Linked DNA regions of Homo sapiens. The protein of the gene in region 1 purifies or fractionates together with the protein of each later gene. This does not show direct contact. Each region holds a gene or a part of one and is shown on either strand. Other genes may lie near its edges. The genes, in order: DBNL, FGD6, ARPC1A and CMAS.

Region 1 (9,662 bases):
GTGTCATCTCCCCAGGCTCTAAAGCACAGGCCTGCTGAGGCAGGCCAGACAGAAGCTCCAGGGATAAACAGTCGGACAGGAACCAAATCAGCTTCAACTTGGCTTCCCCAGGGCTTTGCCAGTGCCACTGGGCAGAGATACTTATGCCTCAGAAAAATGGAAGAAATTAGACCCAGGCCCAGTGGATCTGGTTGGTAGGGAGGAGACAGGCCTCCGGGAAAAGGCACTCCTTACCAGGAGGGGAGACAGAATACAGGAGAGAAACACTGAATGAGAAACACTCAGAGAAAAGGAACTAGAGAAAAGAACACAGAAAAACAAGAGAAAGATTTGGGAGGTGGCACACTGCCAGCATGAGCTGGGGGGAACTCCCTGGAGGAAAGAAGCCCATTCCTCTTGATGGCCACAAAGCCCTGGCTCCCAGAAGATAGCAAGCTGGCACAAGCAGCAGGTAACAGAAGATGGCAGCTCAACCCAGCTCTTGCAAGAAGGGACTCAACCAGCTGCGATGGCTCATGCCGGTAATCCCAGCACTTTGGGAGGCCAAGGCGGGTGGATCACCTGAGGTTAGGAGTTTGAGACCAGCCTGGCCAACATGGGAAACCCCGTCTCTACTAAAAATACAAAATTAGCTGGGTGTGGTGGTGGGTGCCTGTAATCCCAGCTACTTGGGACGCTGAGGCAGGAAAATCACTTGAACCTGGGAGGCAGAGGTTGCAGTGAGCCAAGATCGTGCCACTTCACTCCAGCCTGGGCGACAGAGCAAGACTCTTGTCTCAAAAAAAAAAAAAAAAAAAAAAAGGGACTCAGCAGCTAATATAATAAGAGCCAAGCTCAATGCCTGCCACCTATCCCTCTGACTTGATCCCTCTCTACCCCAGGCCACCTTTAAGAATGTTCCCAGCGCAGAGGCTCATTCCCAGTTCAGAGGCCTTTTGAAAGAAGGGCGAAGGAAGTTTCAAATCAACATGAAAAAACATGGTGCACTGGCCTCTGAACAGCAAGGCATATGGAGTGTCAAGCATCTTATAATTCAATAGTGCCTTTGAAAATAAGTACTGAGAGCCTACTGCTTATTAGTTACAGGAATGCAGCTATGAACAATCCCTAAAAGGTCCTGCCCATGGAACTTACTTTCTAACGGAAGAAAAAACACACACCTAACACTAACGTACTATTAGAGAGTGAAGCAGGTGCTGAAGGTGACACATGAACCAGGTGAGAACAAACCATGCCAAGATACGGAGTAAGCAGGGGCGGGAGACAGATCCAAGATGGAGAGCTGATGTCATGGTTGCTCCCCACTCTATCTGCCCTCCCCAATGCCAGCACTGTGTGTGTGAAACCTCTTATGACCCACCAAACTAGAGACCACCTCTTCTTCCTCTGATATCTCTACCACTTTTTCTGTATGACTTGGTCCATCCTTCATCTAAGCATCTGCCACATGTAACAACCGTGCCTCAAGCACCGAGGACAGAGACAGAGCCCACCCCACCCCTTCTAGTAAGAGATAAAGGTGACAAGAAAATCCATAAGGATTTCCAGCATATTTTGTGTCTGGCATGTGTCTGAAGGAAGTCAAACAGAAAGATGGGAAAAAGTGCCTACAAACAAGGAGCTAGGAATCAAGGAAGGCCTCTCTGAGAAGGCAACCTCGGGGCCAAGAAGTGAAGGCTGGGGAGCCACCTGGGACGATGTGGAAAAAGTGTGCTCCATGCAGAGGAAGCAGCAGAGCAAGGACTCTGAAGAGGAACCAGCTTGTAAGTTTGAGGAAGAGAAAGACGGCCAGAGTGGTGACAAACAGGTGTGGCCACAGTGTGGTAAATGAAAGGGGTGGTAGGTTCTGGGTCATGCAGGGCATCAGCAGGGCAAGGAGTCTAGGCTTTATTCAACATGCAACAGGAAGCCACTGTAGAGTTACAGACACGGAAGTGACATGGTCCAGATATTTTTCCGCAGTGTGCAGGAATCTGCCACATAGTATCTGCTGAGTAACTACCTTAATGGCTGTGACGATGAGGGTGGAGGTCAGTGGGTTATGCTGCTGAGTGACACAACCTGTAGTGCTGCAGGAGCCTGGAGGTAGGGAGGGAGCATAGCATGGCTGTCTGGGCAGATGAGTCCAGTGAGATGGGTGGGTTCTGACTTCATGAGGGGAAAGAGGAGGCTCCACAACCCTCATGAGGGACAGAGAGTAGATGGGGTGGGTAAGCACCGGGCCAGGAGTGGTAGCAGACAGCTCTCGTAAGCAGCCCAAGGAAAGGCTAGGAACATAGGAGGTCTGAAGAGGGAAGCCCAAACTGCCAGGTGGGCTGGGAGGCATCATCCCAAACCAGTGATGGTTCCTGAGAAGACTGATGATGAAGAGAGACCTGGAAGGGAGATAGATGAGGAGTGCCAGGAAGCTCCTAGGTAAGTCTGCCAGGGTAAACAGAGTGATCAAGAGCATGTTAAGAAGCAAAATCTTTAATTTGGCAGGGCTGAAGAGGGGCAAAGATTCTTCTGGGTTCTAAAGCCAAGTGGTATGATGTGGACATGAAAATGGGGCACTCATTGCAGAGATACTTTTGACTGGGTTTGAAGTAACAGGAGAGGTCTAAGAGAAACACGAACAGGAATAGGAGAGAGGCAAAACAGAGGGCTGACATCTAGAAACTCTCCTGAGAAAAATAACACTGACTGACGTGGGTAAATCTGAGGGATTATAAAGCAGGCAGAAAACCCCACCAAGGAAATGACGAGATATCCTTCTTTAGATGCCTCCAAAACAGAAGATGTGCTGTTTGGCATAAGTGCCATCCAGGGCACTCAGACCTGACAGGAGAGTCTACAGAGACCCCATAGAACCAAGCAACTGGTGTTCTAAAGCTCTTCCCCTAATGGCCCAGGGCTGAGGAAAAAGCAAAGCCATAACATCCTCAGGGTCACAATAGTACACTGCATAAAAGCCGCTCTGTGCTGGGCACTACGGAGAGCAGAGGAGATGAGAAAGCACTTACACAAGTGGAGATGGCCCCCACACAAGGGGAAGACAGTTGGGAGGGCCTCAGTGCTGACCACAGTGTGGCCCCACCACGACTCAGACTCCAAGGCCCAGTTTCTATTCCCCAAAGTTGGTCACCTTAGCCCACCATACTCAGCATATTTCTCAGAACTGGGATTTCTCAAAACTGGTCAGTAAAAACAATTTAAGCAAAGAGGAAAGTGAGGATATCTTGGGTGGTAGAGGGAAAATGGGACCTTTTCCCAAATAGATAGCGAGCATCCTACTTTCGTACATCTTCCCATGGCTCAGGCACAAGAAAGAGTACACTTTTTGGAGAAACGAAAGTTCTGAAGTCCACGTTCACAGACAGCCAAGAACCCAGATCCCTGAGCTCCTCGTCTGAAGCCCCCAGGGCAGGGCTCACATTCACAGCCCGGCTGCCAGGCCGCTCTCAAATGCCCATCCCCGAACACAGCGTTTGCAAAAAAACCGGGCGTGGCTTCCGCCTTCTCAGAGAGGGCTGTGCAGGAACCCCTTCTCCAGGGAAGTCCCAGGACTGGAAAGAAGAACCTGGCGAAGCTAGCAAGCACGACCAGGCCGAGGATCCAACATGGAAGCCCGCGAAGCCCACAGTGGGTGGCGAGCGACAGGGGGAGGGGCGGGGACTCACTGGGTCCCCCCAAGCCGGGTTTAACCTGTCCACGATCGGCGGGGCAAGGGGTCACGAGGGTGAGACAGCACTCCTGCTGCGGTGTGGAGGGGCAGACAGGTAAGCCCCAGGCCACCTGCCTGGGCACCGCTCCGCGCTCGCGCTCCCGCTCCCCCCGAGTCCCCCGCTCGCCCCAGACAGACCCACCCCTGAGGCAGCCCCTGGCCCGACCCTGGCCCGTCTCGCCGCCCACCAGTCGGTCGGGGACTTCTCGGTGACCACCCGCACGTAGGCCTCTTGCAGCGCTGGCCCGTTCCGGCTCAGGTTCGCCGCCATGGCCCGCCCCGCAGTCTCCGCGCCGCTGCTGTAGCTTCCGGGCCGGGCCGGGCCGCCCCTTTGACAGCCGACAAGCCTCGCCTCCGACAACCGGAAACCCCGCCCCACGGCAGGAAGCGGAAATGGTAGGGGCCAGCCGCACCCGCGGGTCCTAGCGAGCTGTCCGGCCAGCTGGTCTAGCATGCAGGTCCCGCGAATGCCGAAGGACAAGCGGGAGAAGGGAGGACCCGGCCTTCTGTTTGTCCTCAGGGAGGGATCCTGGGGCGCAGACTAGCCCGTCTTCTGGTCCCACCCAAACGGCAGCTCGACTTGGAAGCCTGGCCGCAGGGACCCAGTCCAGCCCCCGCTAGCTGCTCTCACAGCACCGTGCTTATTCTTTTCTAAATCTTGTTATGTCGATGCGCTTATTTGAACGATCTTGGGTTCACTGCAGTCTCCCTCCAGACGAGGTCTTCAGCCTGTTTGTGGACCCTCAACAGTTTGATCTGTGAAAGAAACATGCATAAATGTATGAATACACGAATAAATGAGTGCTAAGTGACGATCACACCGCTACAAACCTAACTGAAAGTGACTGTGCTTTCTCACTCTCACCTGAGTTTTTCCCTCTGCAGTTTGGTCGAGGCCAGGATAGTGGAGGCATGAAGAGAACCTGTCTTGTGCTTCACCTGCACATCTGGCTGGTCGCCCCTAGAAGGTGTCAGTAATTCCTCAATCTGCTCCCCTCCTCCTGGGAGCACCAGTTTTTCCATCCACAAATCTGCATACACTTGACTGAACTAGCTTCTTATCTGTATGATAGAGAAACATGCCAAAGCGCAAGGCAGCTCACGGCTTATTTCCTCCCATGGAGAATAACTCCCCTGCCTCCTTAAAATATAAATCCTGCCGGGCACGGTGGCTCACGCCTGTAATCCCAGCACTTTGGGAGGCCGAGGTGGACGAATCAAGGGGTCACGAGATCGACACCATCCTGGCTAATACGATGAAACCCCGTCTCTACTAAAACAAAAAATTAGCCAGGCGTGGCGGCGTGCGCCTGTAGTCCCAGCTACTCGGGAGGCTGAGGCAGGAGAATGGCGTGAACCAGGGAGGCAGAGCTTGCACTGAGCCGACATAGCGCCACTGCACTCCAGCCTGGGCTACAGGGCGGGACTCTGTCTCAAAAAAAGTATAGTATATATATACATATATACACACACATAGTATATATATGTGTATATATATACACACACACATAGTGTATATGTATATATACTATGTGTGTATATATGTATACATATATGTATATATATGCATATGTATAGGTATACATATATGTATATATGCATAGGTATAGGTATACATATATGTATATATATGCATAGATATAGGTATACATATATGTATATATATGCATAGGTATAGGTATACATATATGTATATATATGCATAGGTATAGGTATACATATATATGTATATATATGCATAGGTATAGGTATACATATATGTATATATATGCATAGGTATAGGTATACATATATGTATATATATGCATAGGTATAGGTATACATATATGTATATATATGCATAGGTATAGGTATACATATATGTATATATGCATATGTATATATGCATATGTATATATGTGCATATGTATATGTATATGTGCATATGTATATATGCATATGTATATGTATATATGCATATGTATATATATGCATATGTATATGTATACATATATTATATATGCATATGTATATGTATATATGCACATGTATATATATACACATATGTATATATATGCATATGTGTATATATATACATATAGTATATATATGTATATATCCACAATCCCTTAAGTCCAGATGTGCTTTGGAATTCAATCTAAGATTTCAGAAAAGTTATACCATGTATGTCCTGGGTAAGCCCTTATCACAGGATCTGGACAGGAACTGGTAATCAGACATGTTCATGCTTTTGCTGTGATATGTGTGAATAATCAGCTAAGTGTGTGATATGTGTGAATAATCAGCTAAGTGGAATATAAGACGACTCTAAATATCCTCATGACAATTAAGGTCAGTTTTTGCTACCAAATGAACTACCAAAATCTTAAGGTGTTTGAGTCTGGATGGTGCAGATAAGGGCTTGTGAACCTAATTTGGACAAAAACATGGTTCATTTGTTATGCCCATTTTTCTTTCTGTTCACATGATTGTTGCTTGTTGTCTTGTTTGTTTTGTGCTGCTATAACAAAGTACCACAGACTATGTAATTTACATAGAACAGAAATTTATTTTCTCACAGTTCTGGAGGCTGGGAAGTCCAAGGTCATGGCACTAGTATCTGATGAGGGGCTTCTTGCTGCATCATAACATGGTGAAAGGCAAAGAGGATGAGAGAAAGACAAAAAGGGGCCAGACTCATTCTTTTTTTTTTTTTTTTTTTTGAGATGGAATCTCACTCTGTAGCCAGGCTGGAGTGCAGTGACCACGAACTCGGCTCACTGAAACCTCTGCCTCCCAAGTTCAAGTAATTCTCCTGCCTCAGCCTCCTGAGTAGCTGGGACTACAGGCACGTGCCACCATGCCCAGATAATTTTTGTATTTTTAGTAGAGATAGGGTTTCACCATGTTGGCCAGGATGGTCTCGATCTCTTGACCTCGTGATCTGCCCACCTTGGCCTCCCAAAGTACTGGGATTACAGGTGTGAGCCACCCTGCCCGGCCCCAAACTCAGTCTTTTCTAATGAACCTGAGGCAGGAGAATAGGGGCTGGAAGCAGGCAACAGAACGCCAATGCACACTAACCTCCTAGAACCAAATCAAAAGGAAAACGCCTACTTATGACCAAGTAACAAAAGACCAACACCCTGTTCCGGAGCAACTCTCTGGCCTCAAAGTCCATGGAGTCTTTTCTGAAGGTGAGGTTGCATGCTATATTGTCCTCATCTTGCAAATGACAACACTGAGCTTCAGAGAGAGCGACAGAGGGGGCTGGGACTTCGACTCCAGTGTTCTATCTCCATATTGAGAGCCCTTTAAGGTTAAGAATGTGGCTGGGCATAGTGGCTCATGCCTGTAATTCCAGCACTTTGGGAGGCTGAGGCGGGCGGATCACTTAAGGTCAGGAGTTCGAGACCAGCCTGGCCAACATGGCGAAACCCCATCTCTACTAAAAATACAAAAATTAGCCTGGCATGGTGGTGGGCACCTGTGATCCCAGCTACTGGGGAGGCTGAGGCAGGAGACTCACTTGAACCAGAAGCCAGAGATTGTAGTGAGCTCACGCCACTGCACTCTAGCCTGGGCCCCGTGCTAGACTCCGTGCCCCGCACCCCCCCCCCCCAAAAGAATGTGTGTGTGATTAAAATTTAAGTTAGAGACAGTCTCACTATGTTGCCCAGGCTGGTCTCAAACTCCTGGCCTCAAGTGATCCTCCTGCCTCGGCCTCCCAAAGTGCTAGGATTACAAGGGCTAAGAATTCTAGTCATTCATTCACTCACTCATTCATTCATTCATGAATAAACAGTTTGCCCTGCTTGTGTACCTGTCCCCCTCCTGGGCGGATACGGCAGGCAAACGGTGCAAGGGCGGCTGCCGGGAGAAGGTGGGCAGCTGGAGTGGGACTGGGGGAGACAGGATCAATGTGACCTGCGGTGGTCCCCAGGTGGCCGGGATGCAGTACCTGCACGGCGTCCTGGGCCCCATCATCAACAAGGTGTTTGAGGAGAAGTACGTGGAGCTGGACCCCAGCAAAGTGGAAGTTAAGGATGTAGGGTGAGGCCGGGGGTAACTCCGGGGGGGTGCGGGGCGCAGCGGCAGCGGGTTGGGATCAGGCCCTGTCAGCATGTGTGTTTGTGCTTCTGCCCACCCGTGTATTGTCCCCTGTGTCCGTGTCCCGGCTGCTGTGAGAGCCACTGTTCCTGTCGTGGCCCTGGCGCTGACCGTGACCTCCTCTGCCAACCCGCCCCGTTCCACGCAGGTGTTCCGGGCTGCACCGCCCGCAGACCGAGGCCGAGGTGCTGGAGCAGAGCGCGCAGACGCTGCGCGCCCACCTGGGGGCCCTGCTGAGCGCGCTCAGCCGCTCGGTTCCCGCGTGCCCCGCCGTGGTGCGCGCCACCTTCCGCCAGCTCTTCCGGCGCGTGCGCGAGCGCTTCCCCGGCGCCCAGCACGAGGTGCGCCCTCCACCCGCTGGGCTAGGCTGGGCCGGGTTGGACTGGGCTGGGGCGAGGGGCGGGCGAAGAGCGGTGGGGAACCAGGGAGCGCTGGGGAGGACCAGGGAGGCTGTGTCCCGGCGAGGGTCAGGGACGGAGCCTAAGGGGAGGGGGCTGCCAGGAGCCCTGGTCTGGGGGACTCCAGCCCGCGCTCTTCCGCACCCCTCCAGAATGTACCGTTCATCGCCGTCACCAGCTTCCTGTGCCTGCGCTTCTTCTCTCCCGCCATCATGTCGCCCAAGCTCTTCCACCTGCGGGAGCGCCACGCGGACGCCCGCACCAGCCGCACCCTGCTCCTGTTGGCCAAGGTGCGGGCCTTGCGGCCACGGGCGGGATGCACAGCTGGGTGTCCTACCGGGGCCCTGGCCTGGACTGCAGAGTGTTCCCTACCGGCTCCGGCGAGGCCACTGGCACGCCCACGTAGGCACTGCACTTCACAGTTTGCAAAGCCTTCCTGTGGCCACCTTGTCCGAGTTCCATCTCATGGATAAGGGAACAGGCCTGCGAGGGGTCGGGGGTTGCCAAGGCCGCCCATCCTGTCGGTGGTGAATCGCGGGACCTTCCAACCCAGGTCTGCTTACTCTCAGGCTGCACCTATGTGCCCGGCACCGGGGTGGGGTATCCAGTGCAGCAGCGTCAGTTAAACCTACAGAGGAAGGCCCAAGTGGTCTCAGTTATCATAAGGCATCAAACTTCATGATCCTCTCCTCCCTGATCCCTAGTGGGGCTGGAGGGGGCCCGTGGGCATGGCCTCTGTCGCCTCTGCCTCCATCGCTACAGCTGAGTAGCAAAGACTTGGGGAGGGGGGGTGGGAGGGGGTGCAGTGGCTAGGCCCCTAACCTAGCAGAACCTGGTCCTTCCTGCTGTCACCTCCAGGCAGTCCAGAACGTGGGCAACATGGACACGCCGGCTTCCAGGGCCAAGGAGGCTTGGATGGAGCCGCTGCAGCCCACCGTGCGCCAGGGCGTGGCGCAGCTGAAGGACTTCATCACCAAGCTCGTGGACATCGAGGAGAAGGACGGTGAGCGCCGCCCTGCACAGACCCGCCCACAGCCTACTGCTGACGTTTGCTCCGCCCTTGAGCCCCACGGCCCCACCCACCGCTGTTTGTTCCTCTCGTGGCCCCACCCACCGCCTGCTGTTGACATTTGCCAGGCCCCCAGGCCATAGACCCACGCACCACTGTTTGTGCTTCCTGTGACCCTGCCCACTGCCTGCTGTTGACGTTTGCCCCACCCCTAGACCCATGGCCTCACCTCCCATCATCTGTGCCTGTTGACATTTGCTCCATCCTTGAGCTCCATAGCCCCGCCGCCACCTGCTACTGACGCGTGTCCCGCCTCCAAGCCCATGGCCCTGCCTTCCTCAGTCCACCTGTCACCCCGCTCACCACCAGCTGTTGATGTTTGCTCCGCCCTTGAGCCCCATGACTACGTCCACTGCCTGCTGTTCAGATTTGCTCAGCCCTTGAGCCCCATGGCCCCGCCCAC
Region 2 (8,824 bases), on another chromosome or scaffold:
CTTTTTTTTTTTTTGGAGACAGTGTGTTGCTCTGTCACCCAGGCTGGAGTGCAGTGGCACTGTCTCGGCTCACTACAACCTCCACCTCCTTGGTTCAAGCAATTCTCCTGCCTCAGCCCCCTGAGTAGCTGGGATTACAGGCATGCACCACCACACCCGGCTAACTTTTGTATTTTTAGTAGAGACAGGGTTTCACCATGTTGGCCATGCTGGTCTCGAACTCCTGAGCTCAAATGATCCACCCGCCTTAGCCTCCCAAAGTGTTGGGATTACAGGCGTGAGCCACCACGCCTGGCCGATTTTACTTCTGTATACCTCAAAATGCCTCTGTAAATTAAACTACAGACTTTTTTTTTTAACACAGTCACAATCCCATTCTGATGAATTTTGTTTTATTATGATGGAGTTTTAATTATTTATTAAAGTCTTTCTTTCTCTCATTCCCTCTCCCTTCCTCTTTTCTGCTCTTTCTGTACTGTGTATGTATAGATTTATATATTTATTTTTATTTATAATACCTAACATGTGCCTCTCAGTTTTAAATATACAAAACAAAATTTAAACAGTGGTTTCATAAGTATGCTGATACCAGTAATGATTTGGAGTTAACATGGTTTTGGGAAAAAGGCATGGTTGGAAAAACAGAAAAAAAAAATACCCTTGTCTGACCAAGTTTGCCCCTATTTGGCCCATTCCCATCTAGCGCTGAATTAAAGATACCTCCTGATGAGCTGGGTAGGGACAGAGAACTTGGTGGGTGAAATAGGTAGAGAAGCCCTAACAAAAACTGCAGCCTTTACCGTGTGAACCTCATTGTCAACATCTGCTTTCTAATACAAAAAAATATGTTCCCTTCACCCCAGTGCCCTTCCTAGAAAATTTTAGTAATCCTTAGTAATCTAAAGATATTTAGTATTCTATGCTATAAATTGGAATTTGAAACTTGACTTATTGGAATGTTTTTAAATTCTAGGATGATGTCTTAAGAAACTCCCTGGCTATATAAATAATCATAATTATTAATTGTACAATTATCCTTTAAACCAAACCAAAAATATTTTCAAGTTTAGGAGAGTTCAAAAGCTATTTAATATAAAGCAGAACTTTTGGAAAGAAAAAATAAGCATTGTATTTGCTAAAATGCCATCACGGGTTCTCTGTTGTCTGTTCTGATGATCTGTTCACTAAACCTGCCTCAACTCTGAGGAGTTGCTACTTTTTTGACTGGTATTGTTGGAGGGTGGTGGGATCTGTTGCCATGGGAGAAAGAAAAGAAGAAAAAGGAAAAGAACAAAAACTGACATCTGGTTGATGAAACCTTTTGCCCCCAACAGTTCTGCCACAGAAAGGGATGAATGGCTAGAAGCGATTTCCAGGGCAATAGAAGAGTATGCCAAGAAAAGAATCACCTTCTGTCCTAGTAGGAGTCTTGATGAGGTATTGTTTTCTCCTTTTTTTTTTTTTTCCAGTGCATTTCAAAGTTTTTACCTTAAACATTTCACAGGGGTTTAAGAAAGCAACATGTGTTTCAGAAAATGATTGGACTGGACATCAGAGAGTTACTCTACAGATTAATGTCTCATTTCAGCGCTAAAAGTTTATCCTCCTATTGTTGTCTCACTGCAAGTCTGTGATAGCATATAGCATATTCATGTTTCTTCCCAGCTATAAAACTTCATTGTAGGAAATTTAGAAAATACGAAACAGTTTAAGGCAGAAACTAATCAGCTGCCATCCCACTACCACAGGCGTCTTTTTAAGTTAATTTTGTATTAGAAAATTTTTAGATTGTAGCTAAACTTAGTATTCCGAGCACGTGAAAAATATAATAGCCCATATTTCTTTTCTTTTTCTTTCTTTTTTTTTTTTGAGACAGAATTTCACTCTTATTGCCCAGGCTGGAGTGCAATGGCGCAAACTCAGCTCACTGCAACCTCTGCCTCCTGGGTTCAAGTGGTTCTCCTGCCTCAGCCTCCCTAGCAGCTGGGATTACAGGCATGCACCACCACGCCCAGCTAATTTTGTATTTTTAGTACAGATGGGGTTTCACCATGTTGGCCAAGCAGGTCTCAAACTCCTGACCTCTGGTTTTCCGCCTGCCTCGGCCTTCCAAAGTGCTGAGATTACAGGCATGAGCCACTGTGCCTGGCCAATAGCCCATATTTCTTTTTTTTTTTTGTTGAGATGGAGTATTGCTCTGTCGCCAGGCTGGAGTGCAGTGGTGCAATCTCGGCTCACTGCAACCTCTGCCTCCCAGATTTAAGTGATTCTCCTGCCTCAGCCTCCCAAGTAGCTGGGACTACAGGCACGTGCCACCATGACCAGCTAATTTTTGTATTTTTTTTTTTTTTTGAGACAGAGTTTTGCTCTTATTGCCCAGGCTAGAGTGCAATGGCACAATCTCGGCTCACCACAACCTCCGCCTCCCAGGTTCAAGCAATTCTCCTGCTTCAGTCTCCTGAGTAGCTGGGATTACAGGCATGCGCCACCATGCTAATTGTCGTTATTTTTAGTAGAGACAGGGTTTCTCCATGTTGGTCAGGCTGGTCTTGAACTCCCAATCTTAGGTGATCCACCCGCCTCGGCCTCCCAAAGTGCTGGTATTACAGGCGTGAGCCACCGCGCCTGGCAATTTTTGTATTTTTAGTAGAGACAGGTTTTCACCATGTTGACCAGGATGGTCTTCATCTCCTGACCTTGTGATCTGCCCACCTTGGCCTCTCAAAGTGCTGGGACTACAGGCGTGAGCCACCATGCCCAGCCAATGGCCCATATTTTATCCCCATCTTTTTTGTTTGTTTGTTTTTTGAGACGGAGTCCCACTCTGTTGCCCAGGCTGGAGTGCAGTGGGACAATCTCAGCTCATTGCAACCTCCACCTCCCAGGTTCAAGTAATTCTCCTGCCTCAGCCTCCTGAGTAGCTGGGATCACAGGCACCCGCCACCACACCCGGCTAATTTTTGTATTTTTAGTAGAAACAGGGTTTCACTGTGTTGGCCAGGCTGGTCGCAAACTCCGTACCTCATGTGATCCACTCGACTCGGCCTCCCAAAATGCTGGGATTACAGGCGTGAGCTGCTGTGCCTGACCCTCATCCCCATCTTGGTAGTGTGAGATGCCACTGCCGAATAAAAAGGCAGGCAGTGTGCATGGAGATAATCAGAAGTTGTTCTTCTTCCACAGGCAGACTCAGAAAATAAAGAAGAAGTTAGTCCTCTTGGATCGAAGGCTCCCATCTGGATTCCTGATACCAGAGCCACAATGTGTATGATCTGCACAAGCGAATTCACTCTCACCTGGAGACGACACCACTGCCGGGCCTGTGGAAAGGTTGGCGATGATAACACCCATCTCCATTGTGGTCTTTACTGTCTCCAGGCTGTACATAGTGAGGAAGCATATTTCCCCTCATAAACCATTATAGTTCAAGAATAACAATAACTATTATTATTATTATGTTAATGGTAGCAAACATGAATGGTGTTTTCTCTAAATATTTAGGGGGCAGGGGCAATCTTCTTAGTGAACTTCCACCCTCCTACTTCAGAGTTACATTAGAACATCAGTAATAACTGATTCAAAAACAAAATCTAACAAATCCACAATTAAACAGGCCCTCACATTTACAGCTATTATTTAAACTGCATCTCTCTAGTACTAAGTATCCATAGTATTCAGTACGGGGAATGTTCAGTGTTGAAGTTATCTCTAGTGATGTTTCTAAGCCTTCATGATCTCATTAGTAAAATGGGTGTAGAAACAGTGACATCAGAGAGTCACTCTAAAAATTAAATGAGGTTGTATTTAGAGAGCATTTAGTATGGAGCCCAAAAACTTGGTAGAGTTGCAGAGACGTGGTCGTTGCTGCAGCAGTGATTATGATGATGACAGTGCTGGTGATCAGTATACCTCACAGGCCTTTTTGCATGCCAGGTACGGTTCTAAGCATTTTGCATATATTAACTGCTTTACTTTATTATTTTATGTAGTCAGCCCTCTGTAAGTAATCATCTGTGGCCCCTTCATCTTTCAAGTGTGGTACTATGCATTAGTTCACTATATGCCTGAACTCCAGAGTTATTATTGAGACGAAGTGAGACTCAGTGACTCTGAAACTGTTTTGAAAAGTGGATAGCACTGTAAATTGTAACATACTTTATGGTGTAGAAACACAAGTTATTCTAATGAAATTAATGACATAATTCCAATGTGTTTTCAGATTGTATGCCAAGCTTGTTCGTCTAATAAGTATGGCTTAGATTACCTGAAAAATCAACCAGCAAGAGTATGTGAACATTGTTTCCAAGAACTGCAGAAATTAGGTAATATATAAGTAAGGATTTAACCAAAAATTCCTTTATTCCCCAGATGCTTTCAAACAACCTTCTGAGAGAAACACCTTCGGTACATTAGCAATATGATTGTTGATACTTATCTCCAAATTTGTAGTAAGCTTTCTTAATTCATATTTTGTTGTAATTCTGGGAGAGGTTGGGCTGAAATTTGGTTTCAGTCTGTGTAAAAGGTTTTGCTAAGAAAACTGTAGAAATGTAATTACAGGGTAAAACACTTAAAACAGTAAAAGGGAACTTTAACTTTCAAGTAATTTTGAAGTCTATAGTTTCACATGATAGTGTGCTCATTACAAATCATTTTATCTATATGTAAAGTAATTCTCTTTACTTAGGTGGCACTTCGTTAGCTTAATTCTAGTCAGTTAATCTGATTTAGTGAGATGTTAATGTACATCTGAATGTGCAGCTTTTTGACCGAACACAAAAATGATACTTCCTATTTCCCTGCTCATTATTTGCAGGTATCCTCCAGTAAAATGAATGCAGCTTAGCAGGACTGCTCAGGTCTATGTTTTGGGAAGAGATTTTTAGTTAAATTCCTGAAACCTGTAGGATCTAAATTTTATTTATATATATTTTTTGAGATGGGGTCTTGCACTGTTGCCCAAGCTGGAGTGCAGTGACACAATATGCAACCTCTGCCTCTCGGGTTCAAGCGATTCTCGTACCTCAGCCTCCTGAGTAGCTGGGATTACGGGCACGCGTGACCACGCCAGGCTAATTTTTGTATTTTAGTAGAGACGCGGGGCGGTCTCACCATGTTGGCCAAGCTGGTCTCGAACCCCTGACCTCAAATGATCCACCCGCCTCAGCCTCCCAAAGTGCTGGGATTACAGGCATAAGGCACCACGCCTGGCCAGGATCTAAATTTTTGAAAGTCTGTTCTTCATTTCCCTGAAGGATAGCTTTTCATTAGCAAGGAGGAATTTCTAAGTGGATGACATGGTATTTCAGAGTCCACATATTTCTAGATGAATAATTTATTATTATTTGTGTACATTTTCCAAGAAGACCCATCCATCTCTTCCTTTATGTTCCTCTCTTTAGTCTGGGTATATGGTATAAGCTGCAAACATTCAAAATTCGTCTTTGAATTCTCCTTCCTCATCACCTATACCCATTTGGTCAGTAACTCTTGTCAATTTTATCATCAAAAATCTTTGTCTTGATTTCTCCATCCCAGCCCTAATAAGGCCTTCGTTATCTCTCATCTAGACAACTATAATAATTTCCTAACAAGTTTTCTTGCTGTTAGTCCTTTCTCCTTAGTACTGCCAGATATAATCTATTTTTCCAAATTTAATCTGCTCATGTCACTCCCCAGCCTAAAACATATAAACAACAGTCCAGTTTGCTTCAAACCAGCCCCTTTTTTTTAATCTGGCCTCATTATTCTCCAGATAGATGATTTAATTTCATACCTCTCTGCCTTTGCTCATGCTGACCTCTTAGCGCACAGTGTTCCTCCTGCTTGTTTTAACCTGGCAAATTCCTACTTACTCCATCATGGCCAGCTTTTATCTTATTATCTTCTCAGCTTTCCCTGAACCCTCTGCAATCAGAATTCATTACTTCTTCATCCGTGTCCGATAGCCCCCTTTTTTAAGCTGCTTTGTTCATTGTAGCTGGTCTAGTATCTAGACACTTAACAATACCAGGGTTCTTTGGGGTTTACGGCAGTAGGGAAGGTTTTTTGGATTTTTTTTAAGTTGGTAGTATAGTCACGTGTTTCATAATTCTAAAGGCACACAAGAGTAATCCTTTCACATAAAGTTCAAAAAGTATAAAACCATAGATAGTAGAAAGTCTTCCTGCCACTCAACTCCCAGCCATCCATTGTCCTTTTCCAGGAGTTATCAATGTTGTTTCTTAGTGTCCTTCCATGGATATTTTATGCAACAGTGTTTATGGATTTGAATGAAATTGAATTGCAAAATGCTGAGCATTGCCTACATAAGCATGCCTGATTTGTTCTAGATCACCAGCACTCCCCTAGGATTGGATCTCCTGGAAATCACAAATCTCCTTCAAGTGCCTTATCATCAGTCTTACATAGCATTCCATCAGGGAGGAAACAGAAAAAAATCCCAGCTGCTCTCAAAGAAGTAAGTGTTTCCATTAAATTTGCAATGTGATAGAGGCTGAATTATTCATATGCATATAATACACCGTTTTTCTTTCATAAAGGAAGATGTCATTTCCCACAACTATTAAGTCATGAATTTTAATACTGATGATGGATGTGGCTGATGCCTCACAATCTTGCTTGGTCTCCCGTCTGACCTAAGTCATTTAGAAAATGGCTATTGAAAGGTTTAGAGAACATTTAATAGCAGTGATAGAAAGTAAAGATAAGTTGGACACACATGAATTTTTTAAAATGACTTTGAGCAAGATCCTTGCCAGAGGGAAGAAGTCCACAGGATATTTTGGGCATTTTGTTAGCATTTAGTGATCTGCACGGTTTATTTGTAGGCATTGGTTGGTTATGCACAGCTGATATCACTGATAGTAGGTTGTCTTTCCTTTAAACTTCCTTTAAAAGAAAACTTTAAATAGTGATAATAGCCTGTATGCTTAGACCTGCTAATGGTGTAATCCACAGACTTTGTTGATATCCTATCCCATTTCCTCAAATTTAGATGTCAAAGAACAAACAGCATTGCCATTTTGGCTACTCCGTTATGATCAGTTTATTAGTGAGGTCCGCCTGTGCTAGTTTTGTGGCCAGCAGAGTAGTTTTTAATTTGGTTCTCTTGCTTTTTTACTGAGGAGGTGTTCTAGCATACATAGTGGAAGGAAAGAACTCTAAAAATTTGATCAAGATCATGTTTCTTATGTAAAGTTACGAGTATATTCCCAGTTGAAACACAGTGTTTTAGAGGTTCATGGAAATTACAGCACGTATCCATACTTCGTTTCTTGTTATGTCTGAATAATATTTCATTGTTTGTGTATACCACAGTTTATCCACCCATCTCTTGTTGAATATTGGGTTGTTTCCACCTTTTGGCTATTACGAATTATGCTGACAGAAATATTCATGTGCAAATTTCTGTGTGGACATATGTTTTCATTTATCTTGGGTTTATACCCAGAAGTAGAATTGCTTGCTCATATGGTAATTCTATGTTTAACTTTTTGAGGAACTGGGAAGTTGTGTTCTTATTCTAGTAATGTTTAAAATATTTTTAGAAACTCCTCTTTTTAGAATTACATTTAGAGCCTCAGTACTCTCAGTAATGGCAGACTACAGCTTTTGAGTTGGAGTTGGATTATTTTTTTTTAATTTTCATTGCTTCTGGGGTACCTGTGGGTTTTGGTTACATGGATGAGTTGTATAATGGTAAAGTCTAAGATTTTAGTGCACCCATCACCTGAGCAGTATACAGTGTACCCAAAATGTAGTTTTATAGTCCCTCACCCCCACAACCCTGATTTATTTTGTAAATAATCAAATCATTGGAAGACATGTTTTGTGGATCAGTTAGGTGATTAAGTTGGTGAACACCAGTTTTATCTTTGAAAATATAGGTCTAGTCATGGCTATTCAGTATTATGGTTGATCTTCTTGTGTGGCTACTAAACTGGTCCTAAATTGGTATAAAGGAGAAATGTAATATATTTTGAGCAACATTAATAACAACTTAGATAAGAATATAGTAGGATTCCAATGTAACTATATTTTAAGCAAAATCTCATTTGAATGTTAAACATTCTAGTTGGATTTTTTTCCTCTTTTTTTTCACTGAGATAGGAAACAATTCTAGTTTTTTAAAAAATTACTTGGTAGTCTTTATAAGGATGTATTTATATAAACCTACTGTTGCTTAACAAATATTTCTAATTTAATGTTAGATCTTAAATTTCCCACTAAACAATATATAATTATTTTCATGAAATTTATAAGAAATTAATATAATTAAAGATACACTTTAAAAATTCACAGAGCGCATGTGTATTAGTTTTCCATTTCTGCATAATAAATTACCACAAACTTAGCAGCTTAAAACAACATACATTTATTATCTCCAGAGTCCAGGCATGGGTTAGCTGGGACTCTGCAGGGCTATAATCAAAGTTTTGGCAAGTACTGAGTTCTCATCTAGAGGCTCATCTGGGAATTCATTTCCTTGTACTTGCAAGACTGGGGGCCTTGCCTTCTTACTAGCTTTTGGCTGGAGGTCCTCAGCTCCTTGCCATGTGGACCTCTCAACATTGCTACTTTGTTCAAAGCCAGCAAGGAAGAAAGTTTCTAGAGTGTCTCCTAACAAGACAGGGCCATATATAAGGTAGCTTGATCATGGGAGTGACATCCTATCACCCTCACCAAATTCTTAGTTAGAAGCAAGTCGTAGGTCCTGTCCACACTCAGGGGGAGGAGAATGTACAGCAGTGTGACTCTCTACAGCAAGGGTCATGGGAAGCCACCTTAAGCGTGTGCCTGCCATACCATTACTAAGGTAGAT
Region 3 (4,689 bases), about 55 Mb from region 1:
CACTTGAGGTCAGGTGGTCAAGACCAGCCTGACCAACATGGCAAAACCCCGTCTCTATTAAAAATACAAAAATTCGCCAGCCTGGTGGCAGGTGCTTGTAATCCCAGCTACTCGGGAGTCTGAGGCAGGAGAATCGCTTGAACCTGGGAGGTAGAGGTTGCAGTGAGCCGAGATCGCACCACTGCACTCCAGCCTGAGTGACAGAGTGAGACTCCATCTCAATAAATAAATAAATAAAATAAAAATGTAAAACCCCGCCCCCCTTTTTTTTTTTTTTTTTGAGATGGAGTCTCTGTCACCCAGGCTGGAGTGCAGTGGCACGATCTTGGCTTACTGCAAGCTCTGCCTCCTGGGTTCACGCCCTTCTCCTGCCTCAGCCTCCCAAGTAGCTGGGACTACAGGCGCCCGCCACCATGCCTGGCTAATTTTTTTTTTTTTTTTGTATCTTTTAGTAGAGACAGAGTTTCACTGTGTTAGTCAGGATGGTCTCGATCTCCTGACCTCGTGATCTGCCCACCTCGGCCTCCCAGAGTGCTGGGATTACAGGCGTGAGCCACTGCACCTGGCCTTTGTTGTTTTTTTTTTTTATTTAAGCTCACAGGCTGTACGGGCATAGGCAGTGTGTGCCATAGTTTGCCATCCCCTTCCCAGCGTCGGGGAAGAGGCGGGTAAGTTCTAGACATCTCAAAGGAGAAAGAAAAATATTGTCTGAGCAATGGATGATTGTCTTGAAAGCTTCCAGATAATTAGGCTAAGACAAGTTGTTTCATTTATCTGTTCCCCTGCTTAGCTTGGTCGGAATCTAGTGGTGTGTCTGCTGCTAACATTTATGATGATTCACTTCAGACTCAAGGAGGGCTGTTGGCTTATCTGCACTGGCTGTCTTGGAGGCTGATTTGAGAGGTTTTGTTTGGAGCTATGGAATTCAGTCATGCTTCATCATGCCTCTGGTTTATTTAAAAACAAACAAAAATACTGTTTTCGCCATGGCTGTGGTCCTACCCACAACCTGCTCCCAGCATTTGAGTGCTGTGTGGGCTGGGTCATTCCTGCTTCCCCAGGTCACGCTAACCAAGGCAAGTTCTTAACTTCTCCCCTTGCCAGTTTTGTCTTTCCTGGACATCTGGTAATAATATGCTTTGGGGTATTTTCTGAGCCAGATTGTTGCAGCCTAATGTTCATGGATAAGTTCATAATCAGGAGTTAAAAGATAATTCATTTCCTGGTGGAGCGTGGTGGCTTATGCCTGTAATCCCAGCATTTTGGGAGACTGAGGCAGGAGGATCACTTGAGCCCAGGAGTTCAAGACCAGCTTGGGCAACATAATGAGACCCGCATCCCAGCTCTATTTAAAAAATAAAGAAGAAGATAATTCATTTCCTTAAGCTGCCCTTACACTATTAGTCAGGAATGTTTGTGTTCACTTCCACTACATACCTTACGATCTCTTTTGCTTTGCTTTTTTTCAGTCAAGTCTCTATTTATGAGGTGGACAAGCAAGATTGTCGCAAATTTTGCACTACTGGCATCGATGGAGCCATGACAATTTGGGATTTCAAGGTATTTTCTACCTAACAGAACAAATTTTGTTTGTGTTAAAACTTTTTTTTTTTTTTTTAAGAGATAGGCTCCTTCTCTGTCACCCAGGTTGGAGTAAGTGGCACAATCATGGCTCACTGCAGCCACCAACTCCTTGCCTCCAGCAGCCCTCCCACCTCAGCCTCCCAAGCTGCTGGGACAGCAGGCATGCACCACCATGCTCCGTGAATATTTTTACAAAACTCTTATGAGAAGAATGTTTCTCATTTCTTGAAACAAAATGTTAAATCTAGTATACAGTTTAATGTCCTAATGTAAGACATTAAACTGGAAATCTCTCATTTTTTTTTCTTTCTTTTTGAGATGGAGTCTTGTTCTGTCACCCAGGCTGCAGTGCAGCGGTGCAATATTGGCTCACTGCAACCTCCGCCTCCCGGGTTGGAGCGATTCTCCTGCCTCAGTCTCCCAAGTAGTTGGGATTACAGGAGCACACTACAACACCCGGCTATGTTTTGTATTTTTAGTACAGACGGGGTTTCACCATGTTGGCCAAGCTGGTCTTGAACTCCTGGCCTCATGTGATCTGCCCACCTTGGCCTCCCAAAGTGGTGGGATTACAGGCGTGAGCCACCATGCCAGCCTTGGAGATCTCTCTCTTTTTTTTTTTTTTTTTTTTTGAGACAGAGTTTCGCTCTTGTTGCCCAGGCTGGAGTGCAATGGCAGAATCTCGGCTCACCACAACCTCCGCCTCTGGGGTTCAAGCGATTCTCCTGCCTCAGCCTCCCAAGTAGCTGGGATTACAGACATGTGCCACCACGCCCAGCTAATTTTGTGTTTTTAGTAGAGATGGGGTTTCTCCACGTTGGACATGCTGGTCTCGAACTCCCAACCTCAGGTGATCCACCCGCCTCAGCCTCCCCAAGTGCCAGGATTACAGGCGTGAGCCACTGCGCCCAGCCAGAGATCTCTTTAAAACCTAAAAGTCATCCGCAGAAGAACGGCACATTCTCAGTGAACTGGAATTTTTACTTCTAGATGTCCATTTATTCATTGAGGAAAAATGGAGTGCTGTTTTGGAAACAGGCCCTATTGGACACCAGCCCAGGTTTAACTATATAGATATATATTTATAGCTGACACTAATTAATTTAATAAACATTTAGTACATATCTCCTGGGTGCCATGCATGATGCTGAGCACTGAGAATATCCAATCTGAATGAGCCTGTCTGGTAGAAGAGAGAGGTGGATACGGGGGCTGGGTAGGGGATTCGGCAGAGCTCAGAAGAGAAGCCAGTGCCTCTGTTTTCACACAGAGGAATCTAGGGGGATGCGTGGACTGCAGGGAACAGGTTGCACCTGAGCGGCATCCTGAGTTGCGATGGGTTTTGGAGGGAGGGACTGTGAGTTGAGAAGACACAGGCGAGCATCCTCGGCTGCAAGTGCAGCACACCCAGGGCAGCCCTGGGCTTCAGAGAGCGCACACTGCCTCTGAGGCGCTGCCCGTGCTGTGGTCCTCCGGAAGCACAGATGGAGCTAGAAAAAAGAGCTCTAGGTAGCCAGGCGCAGTGGCTCATGCCTGTCTTCCCAGCACTTTGGGAGGCCGAGGTGGGAGAATCGCTTGAGGCCAGGAGTTTTGAGACCAGTTTGGGCAACATAGCGTGACCCCATCTCTATAAAAAAGCCAGGTGCAGCCAGGCGCACTGACCCACTCCTGTAATCCCAGCACTTTGGGAAGCTGAGGCTCGTTTCTCCTCACTGCTTTCCTGTCTTGAGCACAGGAGTTCGAGACCAGCCTGGGCAACACAGTGAGATCCTGTCTCTATTTAAAAATATACATATATATATTTTTAAAAACCAGGTGCAGTGACGCATGCCTTTAGTTGCAGCTACTTGAGAAGCTGAGGCAGGAGGATCACTTGAGCCCAGGAGTTGGAGGCTGCAGTGAGCTGTGGTCACACCACTGCACTCCAGCCTGGGGCAACAGAGCAAGACCCTATCTTTAAAAAAAAAAAAAAAGAGGAGTGAGGAGTGTGCCCAGAGCCTGTGTGTGTGGCAGTGGGGAAAAGGCACACCTGGCCTGGAGGAGCCAGCAGGGGGAGCCCCGGCCTGGAGTGTCTCTGCGGGGTGAGTCCTGGGAGATCCTGTTTCAGGTGGGGCAGGGCCAGGTTCAGGGTGGGGACAGGCAGAACCTTCCCTGAGGAAGAGGGAGTGGTGTCATACCTACCTCGGGGTAGACACTCCTCAGTGACATCAGTGCTCTTCCCACCTTTTCCAAGACCCTCGAGTCTTCCATCCAGGGCCTCCGGATAATGTGAAGCTGAGTGAGCCTCCGCCATCCAGCATGACAAACTGTGGCCGACCGCAGCTGTGCCGTGGCACGATGGCGAGGAAGCCAGCCCCAAGGAAACACTGAAAACACATATCACGCCAATGCCGTGTGGTTTTGTTTGAATATAAAATTGGTGAAAGTGTTGGTTTTTTTAAGGCAGTAATTTTTTTGTTTGTTTTTTTGCGATTTCATTCCATTCTTGACCAAAGCTTCTCTTTAAGTAGTTTATTATGGAAAATTGTCACACTAACTTAAAAGACAGGGTGAGGGAGATATGTAAATTGTCCACTAGAAAATTAAATAAAAGAACTGAATGTGGTTTTGGTTTTGTTTCCTTGTAGTATTTCAATTTTTAGTAGAAAAATATGAGCGAATTCTTCATTCGATTCAGTTTTTTTTAGGCAAAATCTTAGATCCTTGGTTTCTTAAATTGTACCATTCTATACAACCTTGAACCAAAAAGCACCATTTAGTGAGGGGTGAGAGAGAACCGTTTCTGAACATTGCAATACTTCTGCAAAGTAGGTTGTGTCGGTCTGTTTTGTGTTGCAATAAAGGAATACCTGAGGCTGGGTAATTTGTTTAAGAAAAAAGATTTATTTGGCACACGGTTCTGCCGGTTGGACAAGAAGCATGGTGCCTGCGTCTGCTTTTGGGGAAGCCTCAGGAAGGTTTTACTCATGGCAGAAGGCGAAGGGGAAGCAGGCGTGTCCCATGGCGGGAGAGGATGCAAGAGAGAGTGGGGAGGACCAGGCTCCTTGAAACAACCAGGTCATAGAGTGAGAACACACTCATTCCTGCCAGGGGGCACCAAGCCAT
Region 4 (8,824 bases), on another chromosome or scaffold:
GTTAATGATTTCTTTTGATTTGGCTGTTAATTTCTTTTGATATCTGAACAGTGTATGGGTTTCGACAGACCATGATGAAATTGAGAATGTGGCCAAACAATTTGGTGCACAAGTTCATCGAAGAAGTTCTGAAGTTTCAAAAGACAGCTCTACCTCACTAGATGCCATCATAGAATTTCTTAATTATCATAATGGTATGAATTTGATTAATAGTTTATTCAAACCTTTATGTACTTTTCTACTTCCTTTATTATCTTATAAGACTTGTTTTAACATTTGAATTCCAAACCTTAATATTACTTGCTTGCAAGGAACTTTTTTTTTAAATATCCTTTTCATTTCTCTTGTCTTTTTAAGAGGTTGACATTGTAGGAAATATTCAAGCTACTTCTCCATGTTTACATCCTACTGATCTTCAAAAAGTTGCAGAAATGATTCGAGAAGAAGGATATGATTCTGTTTTCTCTGTTGTGAGACGCCATCAGTTTCGATGGAGTGAAATTCAGAAAGGAGGTAATCTCTTTTCAGTCTTTATTTTAGCTGATTTTATTGAGAATCAATTTTTTTGTATATAAATATCCTTTAGGCATGAGGAGAGTAAAAGGGGAGCTGTAAAAGAGAGTATTTGACTCATTACTTTAGTAGGTAATGACATTTACAATCAGCTGTAAATCTGTTATCGAGCCAACACAGCTAGACCAAATTAATTCTTTGCTTTACTCTTTACAAAGGGACATTCTAATCCTCTTATTTCTGTTTGCCTTTTGAGGCAGATATGCTGTTTTTCTAGATCAAATACTTTTATGTTTGTTCTAGACATGTTTGATGAACTCCATACAAGTCATATAGAGATAGAAAGCATCCACCAAAGTGTTCTGAAGGATTTCAAGAATGACATTTTGAAGTTCTTCCCCAAATTCCTAACTCCATATATAAGAAGGGTTCCCTAGGGTTTACTAGGCATTTTGCCTGCCATGTCCAGTGTGCTATAAATCTTATCCAGAGAATTATTATAAACACTGTGTTTTTCCATTCAGTAATGTACATTTTAGTTGTTTCGTAGGGATTCCATTTTCTGTTGAAATTTTCCATTTTTTTATCCATTTTAAAAAAAGGTCATTTCCTCTAATTTAACATATTTTTGATAGCTATTTGAAAGTCCTTGATTGCAAATTTCAACATCTAGTCACTTACAGTTCTGTAATCTGCTTCTTTCTTGATTGTGAGTCACCTATTTCTGCCTCTTCATTTGGCTCATGTTTAATTGTATATCTGGCATAGACACTTGAGTACATATTTTCCTCCAGAGAGGGTACACCTTTTCTTCTATCAGGAAGATAGGATAAGGGGCTGATCACTTTGATTCAATTAGGAGTTGGGCTGGGTTGAAACTTTAATTTCATCTCACCTCTTAGTATAGGTGTCTTATTAGGAGATACATCTTGTATGTGTTACTGACACTCACACCCATACCCTACTCTTGCTAACAAGACTAAGGGATCTGATGACCACAATACTATTATGATGTCTCCCTGCTTTCCAGCCCATTCCCAGCTTCCCACCCAGTACACTCAGCCAAAGTCTTGTAAGGGGGAAGCATTAGGTGGGGAAAAACGAGCTATATGTTTGTGGTTCCTACAGATGACAATCTGTAACTCAAGTCCACAAGGTCATTGAAAGCCCTTCTAGTTTTTGCCTACCTCAGCAGAGTCCCTCTGATTATGCAAAGCTTGATCTTTCTTGTACCTTCTCCTCATACTCAGCAGATATGACCAGGGAGAAAGCAGCCACCGATACTAGGAAAGATTTGTCCCTCTCTTTTCTTCAAAGTACCACTTGAATTATCTAGTTGGTTTATTACCTGTCTCTACCCCTAGATTGTATACTTTTTGAGAATAGAGAGAGTTCTGGTCACTACTCTGTAGCCAGTGCCCATAAAGCTATGTTATCTCTAGCTATTTAATTTGTATTTGCTAAGGTTTTTTCCTGGGTTATTTCAAACACTGGGGTGGAATTGAACAGGGGATGATTTCGTTAAACAAGTAAGTAGAGGTTATTCCTAGAAGCCTGTATAAACACAGAAATGGCAGCAAAAAGTGAAGAAAGATTCTGGAGAGTAACCAGCTATTACACACACACACATACACACACACACACACACACACACACACACACACAGATTTGAGGAAAACTCAGTGGAAAGGCAAAGGAATCTCTACATGACAGTACCAAAGTCTTCATTGATTACATTATGTTCTATTCATTAATGTTGACATTACTGAGCCTTTATTATCAGGTATACTCATAAACATAATTTATTATTATGTTTAGTATATTTTTAACTAATGGTAAGAATGTATAATATGTTACATAAACATTTTCATCAATATAAAATCTTCAATAATTTAATGGAGAAATCTTTACTTTTCAGCAATAATTGTATAAAAACAAGTTCTCAACCACATTAGATAAATAAAACTTATTTCTGTATATGCAAACAATGAGAACTAGATTAAAGGGCCCAAATATTAATATAGGTATTTTATGACAAATTCAGTTCTTTTAAAGCTACTTTAAGGTTGTCTTGATGTCCTCCCAAAGCATAATATTTGTATGAATACCTTAATTGTTCCACATTTCATTATAAAATACTTTAGTTTTCTAGTAGCTATTGGAAAGCAAAGATAAATCATCAGAATTATTACAGATTTTATTCCTTTAAAAAAGTTCTTTTTTTTTTTTTTGAGACAGAGTCTCACTCTGTTGCCCAGGCTGGATGGAGTACAGTGGCGCAATCTCGGCTCACTGCAATCTCCCCCCCCCGGGTTCAAGCGATTCTCCTGCCTCAGCCTCCCAAGTAGCTGGGATTACAGGTACCCACCACCATGCCCGGCTAAATTTGTGTTTTTAGTGGAGATGGCGTTTCACTATGTTGGCTGGGCTGCTCTCGAACTCCTGACCTCAAGTGATCCGCCCGCCTTGGCCTCCACAGTGCTGGGATTACAGGCGTGAATCACCACATTCAGCCTAAAAAAAGTTCTTTATCAGGCCGGGTGCAGTGCCTCATGCCTGTAATTCCAGCACTTTGGGAGGCCGAGGTGGGCGGATCACGAGGTCAGGAGTTCGAGACCAGCCCGGACAACATGGTGAAACCCCATCTCCACTAAAAATACAAAAATTAGCCAGGTGTGGTGGTGCATGCCTGTAGTCCCAGCTACTTGGGAGGCTGAGGCAGGAGAATCGCTTGAACCCAGGAGGCGGAGGTTGCAGTGAGCCAAGATCGCACCATTGCACTCCAGCCTGGGTGACAGAGCGAGACTCTGTCTCAAAAAAAAAAAAAGAAAAGTTCTTTATCTAGATAAAGAAATGCTCTGCATTCTGAGTTCATTTTTATTAACTTTTTTAGTTACTAAATTAACACTTTCTATATTCAGGGCAACGTGGACTTACTCTAACTTTTTGCTTTTAGTTCGTGAAGTGACCGAACCTCTGAATTTAAATCCAGCTAAACGGCCTCGTCGACAAGACTGGGATGGAGAATTATATGAAAATGGCTCATTTTATTTTGCTAAAAGACATTTGATAGAGATGGGTTACTTGCAGGTTTGTACCTTCATTTTGCATAACCCTTTTAAGCGCTTTTGTAGGCATACTTTGAGTTCTAGGGAAGAAGTATGGTACAATTTCTTTATGATAAAGAAAAGTATCAACCTATAGAGGAAAGGTAATAGCCAACAACATTTGCTATCTGAGGCATTTATCCTGCAGGTTTACCCCAAAGTGATCTTTGGAATCCATTCAGTAAATATGCAAGGAATTCTGCTACAACGATAAAAAAATGAATCAAGTACTGGGTGTCTACACATGTCCTGGTACTCATATTATTCCACTCAAAACTACGTAATCCATGTTTGTGTTATAGTTATATTGTGGCTGTAGGGTTGAATAACTTCTATTGCTTTAAAAAGACAAATAATTTCATAGAGGTGAAAAGAGTTACAACCTGGGTGTCAGGAAACCCGGAATCTTTTTATATATATATATATATATATTTTTTTTTTTTTTTATTATACTTTAAGTCAACTGCCTCTTACTATGTAAGCTTGAATATGTATCATTTTATCTGTCCTGACTCTCATTTTCAAATAACAGATTTAATGTCTCTCTCATTTTAGAGCCTGCAACATGGTTGCATCATATATTTCTTAACTTGTTAATTTTAGTTATCATTATTATTTATTATTTACTGTGTACTTCGGAGTAGGTGAAACACTTTGCATATGTTATCTTATGTAATCTGCATAGCGAATGAATGAAGTGGACATTTCTACCCAGTTTTACAGAGGAGGAAAACTGCCTCACTGAAATATGAAGTAATTGACTCAAGGCAAAAACAGCTAATAAATGGTACTGTCAGGATTTGGATTCAGGTTCTTATGTTACTCAAGAAATAGCGGTTTTAAAGAGAGAGAGAGAAACCTCTCCATTGTGTAATAAAAATTCTAATGGGACTATTATTCTGAGCAAAAGAGAGAAAAACATTTTTACAAATCTTCTGGTCAATGTGTAGGCAAACTATAGACTAGCTGTTTAGTTAAATTTAAGTGTTCAGAAAAATTGGATTTGACACACATAGATACTACCATTTTTAAGCTTTTTTCTAAGGAGGACCATGATTAACCCATTCCTAAAGTGTGGAGAAAAATGTTTCTCATTAAAACAAGGTTTATGAAGAGACTGACAATTCTGAAAAAAAAAATGAAATTGAAATTGTCCAGTAATTGATCTTGTCATTCAAATAATTACTATCAGAAGAAAGACCCTTTCTCTTGCTGACCCTTGCCTAGAATCAAGAGACTGCCCTTGCCTTTGCCTGCATGTGACTTGGATGACTATTAGTCATTTTCATCAGTAGCTCAGAGATCTAAGAAAACTCTGTACAACAGATGCTACAGTTATTTTTCCTCCCCTGTGTTGCCTGTTAGTTGCAAATTAGAACAGAAGTTCCAAAAACCTTAATACTGCTTTTGGATGATGACAGGAGAGACTTCTTGAAAAAAAGGAGGATATGATTAAGGGATTTCCACAAAATCCCTTGTGGTCAGAAACCTGGAGGATGTAATATTTCTGCTTTTTTCAATATTAAAATAGAAATTTTCTTAAATAGGGAACTTGAACTGTTTAGATAGAATTTGAAAAATGTTAAGGTTATTTCTTTTGTGTGAGCTTTCTCCTTAAAAAAAAAAAAAAAAAAAAAAAAAAAGCTGGGCGTGGTGGCTGAAGCATGTCATCCCAGCACTTTGAGAGGCCAGCTTGAGGCCTCAAGAGGATAGCTTGAGGCCAGGTTTCCAAGACCAGCCTTGGCAACATAGCAAGATCTTATATCTACAAAAAACTTTTTAAAAATTTAGCCGGACATGGTGCTGTATACCTGTAGTACCAGATCCTTAGGAGGCTGAGGTGGGAGGATTGCTTGAGCCTAAGATTTCAAGGTTATAATGAGCTATGATTGCACCATTGCACTCCAGCCTGGGAGGCAGAGTGAAACCCTGACTCGAAAAAATAAAAAAGTAAAAATAAATTTAAAAATCATTTTTATGTGACTGATTTTTACTGGGTTATTCATTTTTCTCAGTACTGTAGAAATGAATTCATTGTTCTGTATTATAATAAAGTTTTGATATATGTGAATGAATATTAAAAACAGTATTCATGACATTTATACTACCTTTAGGGTGGAAAAATGGCATACTACGAAATGCGAGCTGAACATAGTGTGGATATAGATGTGGATATTGATTGGCCTATTGCAGAGCAAAGAGTATTAAGGTAAAAACAAATAAACCTTTATAACCTTTGTACTAAATCTTAATAATTATATTTCTAGATACTGATTTCTGATACTTCAGACATCTTAGGATCTTTGTAATTACTTTGTTCATGTGAGGAAGACATGTAAAATATGTGTTTACATGGCTTCAATAAAGTGAGAAACATTATCTGGCTAGACCACACTACTTTTACTTACTGTACTATATGTTAAAATATATATGTGAAGTAAATTTGGAGAGTAATGTTTGAATAATTGAATGGAGGGTGACATTTCATGTATTGGTTTAGCCAGATGAGAGGGAGTGATTAGTACTGCACTTGTACTCAAAGGTCTATTTTGGTTTCTTTTAGATATGGCTATTTTGGCAAAGAGAAGCTTAAGGAAATAAAACTTTTGGTTTGCAATATTGATGGATGTCTCACCAATGGCCACATTTATGTATCAGGAGACCAAAAAGAAATAATATCTTATGATGTAAAAGATGCTATTGGGATAAGTTTATTAAAGAAAAGTGGTATTGAGGTATGTGCTCCCTGAATATAGCAGTATTTTATAATATTTTGATTCAGGGTCAAAGAACATGCAAGGAATTAAGAGATTTAAATTTTTAGTATTAACTCTTAAAATATCTGAAATTTGGCCTTCATACGCCTAGAAAATTATTATACTATTTAGTTTTAGATGAGTAGAATTAGGAATTTGTTAATCAGCAAATAATATTTCTTGTTTATTCAGTAAATATAAACATAACTACTTTTAAATGGGAGCTATCTAATGTTTCCCAAAGGATCTTGCAGCAAGAAAGATTCCCTAGATAATAGGTGTACCATTTTAGAAAAGGACGATATCCTGTGGATTTTTAAAATCTAGCTTATTCTTATGAATGACATTTTTGATTCAAAATAACTTAACGTTTAAGTGTATTTTTTTAAATGAAAGCTAGCTAAGATAATTATAATTTACCAGAAATCCTAAATATGTATTGCTAAGCAGCACAAGAGAGAGGTTATAGACTTTCCTCTGGATAAATTGAATTATAGGAGAATCTTAGAGTAGTATCAGACAATATATGTTGTAATTTTTACCTGTAGATAGAATCCTTTCTATTGTAGAAAATAAAATACTGTGTCTCACCTTTATTGGGCTATGAGAAATAAAATGAGCTTTGTTTTAAAGCATCATGATTTTAATTCGACAGTCAGTTTTCTTACTTGGACCTTCAGAAAGTCAAAAGATGACTCGTTTGTGATTTGGACTGTCTACAAGGTCAATTATTATGAAAGATTTCTGTTTTCTTCACTTTTTAATTTTTCCCTTCTTCCTCCAATCCTTTTTTTTTTTTTTTTTAAGGTGAGGCTAATCTCAGAAAGGGCCTGTTCAAAGCAGACGCTGTCTTCTTTAAAACTGGATTGCAAAATGGAAGTCAGTGTATCAGACAAGCTAGCAGTTGTAGATGAATGGAGAAAAGAAATGGGCCTGTGCTGGAAAGAAGTGGCATATCTTGGTTGGTATCTTTTTATTCACCCATAGTAAAATGGACCAGGAATTAATTATTTACTTATTTTTAAAGAAATGACAAAGCACATCCTCCAAATGGGTATGATTGTAGGGAAATAGGAACTCTTTTAACAAACACTGCTGATCAAACTGTTAAACTGGGACAGTCTTTCTGGAGGTTAGTTTGATAATAGGTATCAAATGTAGAATGATTATTAGCACAAGCTGTGAAGTCAGACTGTACCACTGATTAGCCAGTTGTGATAAGATGAATGTTGTTTCCTCATCTGTAAACTGGAGATATCGAGAGTACCTATTACCGTAGGGCTCTGGAAGGGATTAATAAAATAATATGAGTAAAGCACTTAGCAGAATTTCTAGTACATATGAATTACACTCTGAATAGTTTTTGCTGCTAATTGAATGTACATACTTTTTCCTCCAAATTCCAATTCCAGGAAAGAAATGAGACAAATGGGCCAATAGTGAAGTTAAAAGAACCCACTTAAATGTCCTGTGAAAAATAGAATATCCCTAAAAAGGATTACTATGCAACCATTACAAACAGTGCTGTGACCTGTATTTATTTGCATGATCAAATATAACAATGTTTTTCACTTGGATATTAAGCAATACACTTACTTACCAGGTACCTATGATGATACGCAGCATGGAACTGGTTGTGGGAACTGTAGGCTTTCTGCTTGCAGAGCTTACAGTCTGATGATGTCAACATTTTAAAATTGATAAGTTATTAAGATGCATAATAACTATAAATCATGTATGAAAGCAGTATTTACAAGGGTAATATGAGCCTCAAAATAAGAAGCACAGGAAAAACTTTGGGAGCATGTGATCTAGAGACTTCAGGAATAACCCTTAAACCACACATGAAGATTTAATGGACATAAATGCTGCAGAATGTTTGTTAAAGACAGATCCAATTTTTATTAGAAGAAAATTTTAGTGGAATGTATAACAAATTCCAACTATACTTATTATCTTTCTTTGGGATGTTAAGCAAGCTTCTGTATACCTTAGTTTTCTACTTAGAATATAAACACAAACCAAATTTTATAAAGCCATTAGAAAGAAAAACAAAGATAATATAAAATGCTTAACATAGTGCCTACAGATAGTAATAAGTGTATCATTTATATAGGTAAAACTCTAGAATTATATGTGTCAAAATGTAGTGATTATCTACAAATAGTGATAATTAGGATGATTGTGACTTTTTTGCTTCTATTTTTTAAAAAAATATTTCTACCACGAATACGTATTACTTATATGACATTAAAAAAAAAACACACACACACACACTTTAAAAGGAGAGGTAAGAAAATGGAGAAGAGCATTTACATTTTTATTTAAAACTCACAGCAGGCCAGGCATGATGGCTCATGCCTACAATCCCACCACTTTGGGAAGCGGAGGCAGGCAGATCCCTGGAGCTCAGGAGTTTTAGACCAGCCTGTGAAACATAGTGAGGCC

Evidence for each region.
Region 2: the proteins of DBNL (region 1) and FGD6 purify together in Homo sapiens (affinity purification with mass spectrometry; 4 studies listed by BioGRID and IntAct, with this or other methods). This does not show direct contact.
Region 3: the proteins of DBNL (region 1) and ARPC1A purify together in Homo sapiens (co-immunoprecipitation; 2 studies listed by BioGRID and IntAct, with this or other methods). This does not show direct contact.
Region 4: the proteins of DBNL (region 1) and CMAS purify together in Homo sapiens (affinity purification with mass spectrometry; 3 studies listed by BioGRID and IntAct, with this or other methods). This does not show direct contact.

The regions. Positions count from the first base shown.
Region 1 is NC_000007.14:44,039,050-44,048,711, reverse strand, and holds the start of DBNL (drebrin-like protein), read right to left. Parts: upstream 4,011-9,662; 5' UTR 3,975-4,010; coding exon 3,892-3,974; intron 1-3,891. UniProt on the Homo sapiens protein: Adapter protein that binds F-actin and DNM1, and thereby plays a role in receptor-mediated endocytosis.
Region 2 is NC_000012.12:95,087,205-95,096,028, reverse strand, and holds part of FGD6 (FYVE, RhoGEF and PH domain-containing protein 6), read left to right. Parts: intron 1-1,334; coding exon 1,335-1,437; intron 1,438-3,183; coding exon 3,184-3,330; intron 3,331-4,219; coding exon 4,220-4,322; intron 4,323-6,332; coding exon 6,333-6,460; intron 6,461-8,824. UniProt on the Homo sapiens protein: May activate CDC42, a member of the Ras-like family of Rho- and Rac proteins, by exchanging bound GDP for free GTP. May play a role in regulating the actin cytoskeleton and cell shape.
Region 3 is NC_000007.14:99,362,074-99,366,762, forward strand, and holds the end of ARPC1A (actin-related protein 2/3 complex subunit 1A), read left to right. Parts: intron 1-1,469; coding exon 1,470-1,560; intron 1,561-3,817; coding exon 3,818-3,856; 3' UTR 3,857-4,189; downstream 4,190-4,689. UniProt on the Homo sapiens protein: Probably functions as a component of the Arp2/3 complex which is involved in regulation of actin polymerization and together with an activating nucleation-promoting factor (NPF) mediates the formation of branched actin networks.
Region 4 is NC_000012.12:22,055,098-22,063,921, forward strand, and holds part of CMAS (N-acylneuraminate cytidylyltransferase), read left to right. Parts: intron 1-51; coding exon 52-194; intron 195-357; coding exon 358-513; intron 514-3,469; coding exon 3,470-3,603; intron 3,604-5,734; coding exon 5,735-5,829; intron 5,830-6,183; coding exon 6,184-6,355; intron 6,356-7,183; coding exon 7,184-7,337; intron 7,338-8,675; exon of another isoform or gene 8,676-8,824. UniProt on the Homo sapiens protein: Catalyzes the activation of N-acetylneuraminic acid (NeuNAc) to cytidine 5'-monophosphate N-acetylneuraminic acid (CMP-NeuNAc), a substrate required for the addition of sialic acid.